4 separate regions of the Homo sapiens genome follow, and all the other regions are linked to region 1. The links come from fine-mapping of genetic effects on gene expression. A gene starts in region 1. Each other region holds a variant in brackets. All regions are shown on one strand. Distances are from middle to middle.

What was found. PIP is the estimated chance that this variant, and not a neighbour inherited with it, causes the effect.
Region 2: its variant is the best candidate, but not a certain one, in a credible set for the expression of RPS24 in whole blood (INTERVAL, PIP 0.60).
Region 3: its variant is the best candidate, but not a certain one, in a credible set for the expression of RPS24 in whole blood (INTERVAL, PIP 0.63).
Region 4: its variant is the best candidate, but not a certain one, in a credible set for the expression of RPS24 in whole blood (INTERVAL, PIP 0.70).

What each region holds. Positions count from the first base shown.
Region 1 is chr10:78,032,837-78,035,438 of GRCh38, reverse strand. RPS24 (ribosomal protein S24) reads right to left here and starts at 1,576. Exons shown (of 6, transcript NM_033022.4): 1 at 1,535-1,576; 2 at 22-87. The coding sequence starts at 1,537. RefSeq lists an enhancer at 1,247-1,776.
Region 2 is chr10:77,809,239-77,811,840 of GRCh38, reverse strand. DLG5 (discs large MAGUK scaffold protein 5) reads left to right here. Exons shown (of 32, transcript NM_004747.4): 23 at 607-747; 24 at 2,111-2,294. Among named protein-coding and RNA genes, the nearest start is that of DLG5, 120 kb to the left of the region's middle. RefSeq lists an enhancer at 2,583-2,602. The variant G/A (reference allele first, on the strand shown) is at 973.
Region 3 is chr10:77,590,410-77,593,011 of GRCh38, reverse strand. All of the region lies in intron 1 of KCNMA1 (potassium calcium-activated channel subfamily M alpha 1), which reads left to right. Among named protein-coding and RNA genes, the nearest start is that of KCNMA1, 46 kb to the left of the region's middle. RefSeq lists a silencer at 330-518. The variant G/A (reference allele first, on the strand shown) is at 1,440.
Region 4 is chr10:77,554,096-77,556,697 of GRCh38, reverse strand. The region is part of intron 1 of KCNMA1 (potassium calcium-activated channel subfamily M alpha 1); the gene reads left to right. Among named protein-coding and RNA genes, the nearest start is that of KCNMA1, 82 kb to the left of the region's middle. The variant T/A (reference allele first, on the strand shown) is at 1,395.

The DNA of each region.
Region 1 (2,602 bases):
GATTGATGTGCCCTTCCTTACCATTTGTTTCCTCTGAAGTAGTCGGTTGGTCATGAACTTTCTAGTGCGGATAGTTACGGTGTCGTTCTGAAAACATAAACACTCTGGTTAATAAAACTACTCCAACTTTTCTTGGCCTTGCTGTGATTTTCCAAGACCTAGAATGTTGCAGTCCAATTTGTAGCCATTAGTCATGTAGCGAACTAAAGTAAATAAAACCCACTGGGCAAGGCCAAACTCACAGGATACACCTAAGGAATACATAAAATACCAGGAAAACACAATGGTTTTACACATGAATCTGTACAACTTACTTCACTAGGTTATGTGTATCTCTGGGGCAGGGTTTCTCAACCTCAGCACTACTGATATTTCCATATGGATAATTCCATATGGATATGTTGTGGGGACTGTATGTTTTAGAATAACTATAAAAATCCCAGCCCTCTAACCACTAGATGCCGGAAGCACTTCCCACCTTTCCCAGTTGTGACAATCAAAAATGTCTCCAGACTTAGCCAACTGTTCCCTTAGGAGAAAAATCACTCCGGGTTGAGAATCACTTCTCTGGGGTAAAAACTGCTGTGGCTCATATAAAGGTCACTCAATGAACTGTGTTTATCATGTCTTGCACAAATGTGCCCCAAACCTTGTACTCACTACCTACATGTAATCTATCCTTCTAGAATGGCCATAGCAGAGATCAGAGAAAACGATATTCCCTTCTGAAGGACTGAACTGCACCTTTACTTAATACCTAACAAAAAATGTGGGCATTAAGCAATTTATGCTAACAATTTTACCAAAAAGGAGGCGCAAGAGACTTTCATGGCAGCAAATAACTTCCTAGACTTTCTCCATTTTACTTTGAGAAACCACACCAAATTAAATCCACGTCAGTGGTACTCAATTCTTGAAAGTAACGGATCAAAGGTAAGGAGAAAAAAAAAAGATTGCTGGTAAAGTTAAAAACGGATGCTGGAGGAGCTAATAACGCATGACTTAGGGCAGGACTACCTTTTTATAACATCTCTTTCCAGGGCCTGTTTCCCCACTATGAAACATGAAGATCCATCCAGCTGACAAGTTTTCTAGCTTACACGTGGGAATGGTTTCACTTGCCGCAACTCGCCCAGGCGCTGCCCGCACCTTCTTCACCTCTTGTACTGCCATCACCTGCAAGCCGCCTACCTAGCCCAATGAGGAACTGCAGACGAGATGTGCCTCCCAGTGTCCATCTATCCCGCCCGCCCCCTACCCCCATCCACCGTGCTCCACGAAGTCAACAAGCGCAACAGCTCCTGCACTGCCCAGGCGCTGGAGCCCGAAGCCCAGCGTGTCCGGGTCTACAGCGCAGCCCGCCAGCCCGGACGCCCTGCCAACAGCCCCGAGCCCCTCGACAACCATCCTCTGACAGAAACGGCCAGAGAAGAGCAACCGGGCTTCGCGTGCCTATAGCTCAAGTACTGGGACCCAGGGACCACGGATGGCTCGGATACGCGGCAGATGACTGCACGGGCCCAGGGAGACTCACCATGATGGCGATCTATCTTCAGACAGCCAAGGAGGAAAAGAGAACCACGATTCGCCGGCCAATCATATCAACGCGCACGGAAGGACCCCGGGAAGAGCCGGCGTGGGGGCGTGGGCGCGCCACGAGGCTGACCGCGCCGATGCCTGATTTAGGCTGCCTACGGCCCCGCCTCACAGACTTTTGGCCACACCCCTGGAACTCTAGACTGACCAATCCAGAACCAGAACAACTCGAGCCGACTAGGTTTACGCAAGCAGGTGTTCAATTTCAGTTCAATTCATTATGTTGAATTGTACGTATTTGAATTCCGGTAAACCAAATTAGTTTAAATTGCCTTCTTCCGAGTTAGAGGTGGGTAAACTTGGAAAGCATTTTAGGATATCCTCTCTAACAGTCTCCTCGTTATATGGCTAGGGAAACTGCAGAAACCCTGACTCTAAAACCTTTGTTATTTCAAGTACTTAACATTGCCCATTCTAATTTATTATTCATGAGTATTATTTCTGTGACTTTTATGACGAATCTTTACTTTAAAAGATCTCTTTAATTTGTATTTTTCTGCAAATCTTGGTCATTATGCAAAATTAGATTTTGAAAAATATTTGGCCGGGCGCGATGGCCACGCCTGTAATCCCAGCACTTTGGGAGGGCAAGGCGGGCGGATCACCTGAGGTCAGGAGTTCGATACCAGCCTGGCCAACATGGCGAAACCACGTATCTACGAAAATAAATAAATAAATAAATACAAAATACAAAATTAGCGGGGCGTGGTGGCTCATGCCTGTAATCCCAGCTACTCGGGAGGCTGAGGCAGGAGAATCGCCAGAACCCGGGAAGCAAAGGTTGCAGTGGGCCGAGATCACACCATTGCACTCCAGCCTGGGCAACAGGAGCGAAAATCCGTCTCAGAAAAAAAAAAAAAAGAAAAGAAAAAAAAGGAAAAAAAAATTGGAAGCCAGGGGCAGTGGCTCACGCCTATAATCCCAACACTTTGGGAGGCCGAAGCAGGTAGATGACCTGAGGTCAGAAGTTCGATACCAGCCTGGGCAAAATGGCGAAACCCCGTCT
Region 2 (2,602 bases), 220 kb after region 1:
GGGTGCCAGCCGTAAGTTCTGGGGATCCTACTGCTGCTAAAGAGAGAGTTGACCAGCCCTGGATTTTGGAAAAGGGGCATATATAGAGAGGCTGTCTCCTCCTGAAATGGGGTGTGGAAACAGATGGCTGTGGTCCCCCTGACCAGCAGGGGCCCATGGTAGCCAGGAGTTGTGGCCCCGGGGGTGGATTCTCACTCAAAGTGTTTGGCTCCCTGTCCAGGAGCAGATGCTGTACACCTGTCTGTATCTGCCCCTGAGCTGTGGGTTGAAGGGCAGAAAAGAAGGGGAGGCATGCCCTGCAGTGCTGCGCCACAAGCTCAGCAGGAGAGATGGGATGCACAGGCAGAGGAAAAGAGACAGGATGCTCACAGCTTCCTGAGGTCAGATGCCTTTGGAGAGGGCCCCTGAGCTGAGGACAGGTGGAGGGGAGAGGACAGGTGGATGTCATGGGTCCAGGCTTCTAATGTGTCTGCTCTGCTCAGGGCACAGGGTGCAGGGCTATGTGACCTGGTCCCCATTTATAGCTCAGATCTAGTTGCCACAGGAGTGGGGGTGGCTCTGGGTGGCTTCGTACTGCTCCTTATCCCTCCTGTCCTCCGCCTCCAGCTCACACCTGGACCCTGCCGGTACCCACTCCACTCTCCAGGGCAGTGGCACCACCACCCCGGAGCATCCATCTGTCATCGACCCACTGATGGAGCAGGACGAGGGGCCTAGCACCCCCCCAGCCAAGCAGAGCAGCTCCAGGTCAGCAGACGTTGCTGTGAGCCTTCCCTGTGTCCGCTTCGGCTGGGTGGGGCTGAGCACATTCTCCAAGTGGCGTGGGCACTGGGCAGCTGGCCTCATGTGCTGCAGGCCGCACACCAGGTCTTCAGGAGTTGGGCCGGGAGCACGGCATTCCTTTTTTCCTTCCCTACTCTCTCTTTTCCTTTCTCTTTTTCTCCTGTTTTCTATTGACTTGTTTTTTCCCCT[G/A]CATCTTCTCTTTCTCTTCTCCTTTTCTTGTTCACTCGCTTTCTGAGTCTGTCTTTGGACACATTCCCACAGTCATCACCCGGCCAGGCCCTGGGCTCTGGCCACCCACAGCAGTGCTTCCCCCAATGAGGTGGCAGACCAGTGCCGGGCACGTGCAGCAGAGTCAGGGTGCTGGGAGGGCACTGCCGGCCGCCGCAGAGCAGGCAGGAAGATCACTGGAGTGTGGCAGGGGAGGTGGCAGCTGGATTAAAATGTTCAGGACAGGCAAGAGCCAAGAGTGGGCATAAAGAGAAGTCCAGGCCGAGGGAGCAGCAGAGTTCAGGAGGAGGAAGGAGCTCCATGGGAGCTGCACAGCGTCCAGCCTGGCCTGGGGCTGCAGGGAGGGCCATCCAGGCCATGGTGTGACATGATCACTCTGCCGTCCTGGAGGAGCTGTGTCTCCAGCACTGAGAGGCCTTCACCAAGCCCTGGGCAGCATCTCACAGAATGAGGCCAGCTCTGCATTCTCTATACCAGAGTCTGTCACATTGGAACTTACCTGCTGCAAGGTTTTCCTCCCGGGCTGGCATCTCCCCTGAAGCCCCCTGTATCTGTTTCCATCGCTGTCCCATCTCACTCCCTCCATGTGTTCAGCAGCTTACTTTCAGCTTCCCTTCCTTGATTGTAAGTGCCTTGATGGCAAGGGGCCCCTCTTCACAAGTTAGCAGTTGCTGGTCTATAGAAGCTTCTTCGTAGACATTTGCTGAATACATTGCTGTGCTCTGGACAGTGAGGCCAACTTTACCTTTCCTTAGGAAGTACTAAGTTAGGAAAATGAGTGTGATCCACATGGGAGGGAGGCCATCCTGATCTTTAAGGCATGAGATTGATAGCCGGGCCTGGGAGCAGGGGCACTGATTTACGGTTTTGACTGCCCCCGCTAACTGGCTTTGGACCTGGGGTCTTGCCTTCATCTCCAGTGCACCTTAGCATCCTGTCCCGAACGCCGAGCCAGTAGAACTAGAGGCCACCTCTCAGCTCCCTGTGGTTCTGAGACCCCAAGAAGCAGGCAGAAAGCGGTTAGGGCATTGGCCACTGCTTTGTCTTTTTGTGCCTCCTCTTTGTGCACAGTTGAGGAACTTTGTTTTTTTCCTGAAAGGATTGCGGGAGATGCCAACAAGAAGACCCTGGAGCCACGCGTTGTCTTCATCAAAAAGTCCCAGCTGGAGCTTGGGGTGCACTTGTGTGGTGGGAACCTGCATGGGGTGTTTGTGGCCGAGGTGGAGGATGACAGTCCTGCCAAGGGTCCTGACGGCCTCGTGCCAGGGGACCTCATCCTGGAGGTGAGTTCTGAGCTGCTGAGCAGGCCAGGCCTCCATCTACCTGCACAGTGGGCTTGCTGCCATCTCAGGTGGCACCAAAGACGGAGGAGTACAGCCTCTCATCTGGTGAGCCAGTCAGGGCTGACTTTTGTTGTTGTTGTTGAGGCAGAGTCTTGCTCTGTCGCCCAGGCTGGAGTGCACTGGCACAATCTCAGCTCACTGCAACCTTCACTTCCCAGGTTCAAGCGATTCTCCTGCCTCAGCCTTCCGAGTAGCTGGGACTACAGGCATGTGCCACGATACCCGGCTAATTTTTATATTTTCAGTAG
Region 3 (2,602 bases), 440 kb after region 1:
AGGAACTAAAGTGGTTTGCTGGCAAGAAAAAGAGACCAGGGCAATTCCAGAACAAAGAAGGTGGAGGTGCTCCTGGTCTCAACCTTGGTCTTTATTGGACCCCACTGCCTTTGTGCGCTCTCTCTTACTGTCCACTCCAGGGGCTCAGGCTGCCGGGGCACACTCAGTGGGCACAGCTGCAGGACTGTGAGGCCTCCTCTAAAGAGAAGACTGAGGGTCCTCCAGCATTATTGTAAGTGTTCAAAGCGTGGTCAGAATTCATCTGGATAGAAGAACAAGCACAAACGGGTAAACATCCTGGCAAGACTGAGTTTGGCCTCATGTCATTCACAGTGCCACTGGTTGGCCCCTTTCCTGCCTCTGGGTCTTGCCCAAATGTCATCTTGCCCACATGTCACTTCTCTATTTAAGGATGCCAACTGCACCTCACCTCTTATTTGGACCATCTTTCCCAACTGGATTTGCCATCAAAATATTATACAGAAAATTTGCAAATTAGTACAGAGAATTCCTGTCTACCTGTTAGCCAGTTTCCCGTAATTGTTCACATCTTACATCACTATAGAAAAGAACAAGTTTCATGTTGGTCTAAAACTGCATGTCAAACTTTAAGCCTTCCTCAAATATCATCACTTTTCCCACTGATGCTGTTTTTCTTTTCCAGGATCCAGTCCAGGGTCCCACATTGCATGTACCCACCATGTCTCCTTAGTGTGCTTTTGTGACTCGTCTTTCCTTACCTTTCATGACTTTGACATTGGTGAAGAGTGCTGGTTAGTTATTTTCATAGGCGGTCTGTATATTTTGGTGTGTCTGATGTTTTCTAATGGTTAAAGCATATGGGTTTTTTTTTGTTTTATTTATTTATTGCTATTGATTGGGTCTCTCCTGCCACTGGAATATCTGCTCCCTCCGAGCAAGGATTCTCATTGGTCTCGTTCACTTGTGTGCAGGAACATCTGTGTGTGCCTCGCACCCATGCTCAGTCAATATTTGCTGGGCGAACGAATGAGACTGAACTCCCAGGCATTAGTGGAGCATCTGACCTGACCTGAGAGAAACGTGGAGAAGCTGGGTCCTGGCAGAGCCTTGATGGGCAGTTGGGCTGGATGGGCACTAAAGCCTCTTTCAGCATTCAGGTTCTGTGATTTTGTAACCTGATGGTGGTATCTGAACTCAAGCTAATTAAATTCCACAGGTGTTTGCTGAGGAAGTACTTGCTGTGGCATCCTGGGCTGGGCAAGGTGGGGGATTGATGGGCATGTGCGATCCAGGCTCTGAAATGCAACCACATTCCCAGGGAAGCCAGGAGCACAGGGATTGCATGTAAAACACAGGTGTCCAGTTAGTGGTTTAGAATCTAGACTTTGGATTAGTGGCTCCCAAACCACAGCCTGCTTTAGAATCACTAGGAGGACATTATTAAAACACCAATTGCT[G/A]GGTCCCACCCTCAGAGTTTCTAAGTTGCTTGGCCTGGGTGGGGCCTGAGAACTTCCAACAGCAGTTCCAGCAACTTCCCAGGTGGTGCTTATTGATGATGCTGGTCTCGCAACCCTATGTTGAGAAGTATTACTCTAGATGTTAAGAGAACACACAATTTACTGCTAATTAGCAAGAGCCAGGAGGGCTTCCTGGAGGAGGTGGTCAGGCTTGAGTAGGGTAGGATTTTCAGAGGTGGGTCTGAGGCTTGAATCTATACACAGCTGGCTTGCTGCCACCACATGCGATCTGTGGTGCCTTTTGCCTGCCTTTGCCCTGCTGGCACCTGGCCTCACTCGTGGCCTTGTCCAATCCTCTTGGTACATGAGTGATCTTGGCCAGGGGAGTCTGAGCCCCCAGAGGAGGAGGCTGACTAAGCCTTAGAATGGAGTTGACCTTGGCTGGCTGAGATGAAGTCCCTCTGAGGCCTGGACGTGGCCTGCGCTGCACAGCCTGCCTTAATGTGTTTATCTGCCTGGGCCTTGCTCGCTGTCTGCTGGCACCATATGAGGTGTTGCTGTTGAGCTCCGTGGCTCTATTTCTGTTTTCTCGCCTGGCACCAGCACAGCAGGGCAGATGAGGTGTGTGGCCACCCTTGGTTTCTTCCTGGCTCCAGGTTCTTCTTGAGGTGGGCATTTGGTCAGGAAGAACATTTGAGTCTCGCTAGAGTGTCTGGTACAGAAGCAGCTGGACCTTTTTCAGGAGGGAGAGGTTCTGGGAAGGAGGGAGAAAACCTTTAGAAATTTAAATAAATTTAGACTTAGCATCTGGCGGTGGTAGTGAGAGGTGACAGCGTGCTGGCAGTCCTCACAGCCCTCGCTCGCTCTGGGCGCCTCTTCTGCCTGGGCTCCCACTTTGGCGGCACTTGAGGAGCCCTTCAGACCGCTGCTGCACTGTGGGAGCCCCTTTCTGGGGTGGCCAAGGCCGGAGCCGGCTCCCTCAGCTTGCGGGGAGGTGTGGAGGGAGAGGCGCGGGCGGGAACAGGGGCTGCCAGCGGTGCTTGCGGGCCAGCGCGAGTTCCGGGTGGGTGTGGGCTCAGCGGGCTTAGCACTTGGGCCAGCAGCTGCTGTGCTCAATTTCTCACCGGGCCTTAGCTGCCTTCCCGCAGGGCAGGGCTCAGGAC
Region 4 (2,602 bases), 480 kb after region 1:
CATCTTGATCCTCAGTTCTGGGTGTGTCTGGGCCATATTTCCAGAGTCCTGGCTTCCACCAGATGCAGCATAATCACGGTTTTGAAAGCATAAAGAGTCCTTATTGTACTGTATCCTGGTCTTCATCATCATCACTTCCATAGACTGCACTTTACAGGGCATAGAATTCCCTTTTTTTTTTTTTTTTTTTTTTTTGAGATAGTCCCACTCTGTTGTCCAGGCTGGAGTGCAGTGGTGTGATCTCGGCTTACCACAACCTCTGCCTACCAGGCTCAAGCAATTCTCCTGCCTCAGCCTCCCGAGTAACTAGGATTACAGGCACATGCTACTATGCCTGGCTAGTTTTTGTATTTTCAGCAGAGATGGGGTTTCACCATGTTGGCCAGGCTGGTCTCGAACTCCTAAACTCAAATGATCCACCTGCCTCGGCCTCCCAAAGTGCTGGGATTACAGCATGAGCCACCGCGCCTGACCCTGAATTGACTTTTAATTCCTCGCAATTACTTTGAGAACTATAATACCATTTTTAAAGGTGAAGACACAGGCTCAGAGAGATTGGGTAATTTGCCCATGGTTCCTCTGATGGTAACTGGCAGAAAGGGGAACTGACCGGAAATCCAAGCCCAAGCTATTTCTCTCTGTCCACACCATATGTCAGCTGTGTCGATTCTTATGCCATCCTCTTTGAAAAGAACTCAGAGTGCTTTTGAAAACCCACATTTTGCAATTGCTGCTTTATAGAGTGTCAATGTTTGTCTAAGTTAATTCTCAGGTAGTGACGATCAAAGATGTAACAGTTCATCCAGGGTTTACCTAGTTAATTCCAGCACAGAACCAGAAACAAGATTTCTGGCCTCTCTAGCACTAACCTCTCCAGATGCCTTCCATGAGGCATATGTGTGTGCTAGAGGCATGGAGGAGCTAAGTTTGGGTCTCTGTACTGTTCCCTTCTCATCTGTTTAACCTCCAAAGTATTGTACCATGTTCTCTGTGTCCAGTGGAAAATGATGTTTTTACATTGCATCATCTGTCATTCTTAACCCCAGAGTGGGGCTGGAGTGTTGGAACACTTCAGCACAGGACTCTGTTTAAAGCTGTGAGAAGCTCTTTTTGTTTTTCTAAGTCGGCTGAACTAGTAAAACAGTTTTACAACTGTGTTTTCAAGTTCTGTTCAGAAAGACAAGCTTGAAAAAATAGGTGATGCTGAAGTGTCATTTTAGTAAATTTTTTTTCCCTGTTAGAAGAGAGGTTGGCTCTTCCTTGATTCTAATCTTTAGGTTATTTCTCCAAGAGCTACCTTTCTGTTTTTTTTCTTTCTGCCCCATGAGGTCTTCAGTCCTGGATACTCTCATCCTATAATAGCCAGAAATGACCCTTGATCCATGGAGTTTGAC[T/A]TGGGCTGAAATCAAGTTTCAAGAAATACCACAGGGCCTTGTGACTTTGTCACATGTCACCCTGGCCTGTGAGGGGGCCGTCTGACTCCCGCCCTGAAGTGTATCAGTCACATGCCCTTGTTTGTCTGCCCCCTCCCCAGCTCCCCAGCCCACCTCCCTATGTCAGTGTCCTCTTTCTTAAATCTGCACTGGACTGGGGAAGTTCTTCATCTGATGCGTTTTCCTGTGGTGTGCGTGCGTGTGTGTATGTGGTAAGAGTGAAGAGATGATCAAGGAAGATTGAGGCAGCTCGAATTTCATTATGAACGGTTCTTCTGAGAAGAGAAGTCACTTTCATATTATGAGAAAAGTTAGGAAGAGGTCAATGCCAACCTGCACCCCTCTGTGATTGGCTATCCCCTTCACCTGCCTTGTGTAATGTTGCCCCCTTTCCCTAAGACCCCCAGGAGGGCCTAGTTTGAGAAAATGGGCCGTAATGGTTGACTGTGCCCGAGAGATCAGGCTCTTCCATGTGCGGAGGAGTCTTTGGAGATGGCACCGTTTCCAGGAACAGGAAGGCCTTGGAAAGTTTGTGGGCTCCTTGGGCAGAGGCAAAGTTTCTTTTGGACTCTTCCTTAGTCTTCCTCATTTCCAAATTTCAAAAGTGTTTTCTCTTTCTCTTTCTTTCTTTTCTTTTCTTTCTTTCTTTTTTTTTTTTTTTTTTTTTGAGATGGAGTATTACTCTTGTCACCCAGACTGGAGTGCAGTGGTGCAATCTCGGCTCACTGCAACCTCTGCGTCCCAGGTTCAAGTGATTCTCCTGCCTTAGCCTCCTGAGTAGCTGGGATTATAGGTGCACACTAGCACGCTCAGCTAATTTTTGTATTTTAGTAGAGAGGAGGTTTTACCATGTTGGCCAGGCTGGTCTTAAAACTCCTGACCTCAAGTGAGCTGCCTGCCTTGTTCTCCCAAAGTGCTGGGATTATAGGTGTGAGCCACCACACCCAGCCCAAAAGTAATTTCTTTGGACTCTTCCTTACCTCATCAGAGAGGAGCTGCTACTTTGTTGCCACAGACTGTCCTCAGAGAGCCTTTGATCCTGTCTCTGCTGTTCCCTGTGCTGCAACCTGGGCTTTCAGCAGGCGAAAGACACAGCAGACCTGCCCATAGCTGTGGGCAGTCCGGCTTGGCTTGTTACCAAGAGATTTACTCAGCTTGCTTTGAAGAGC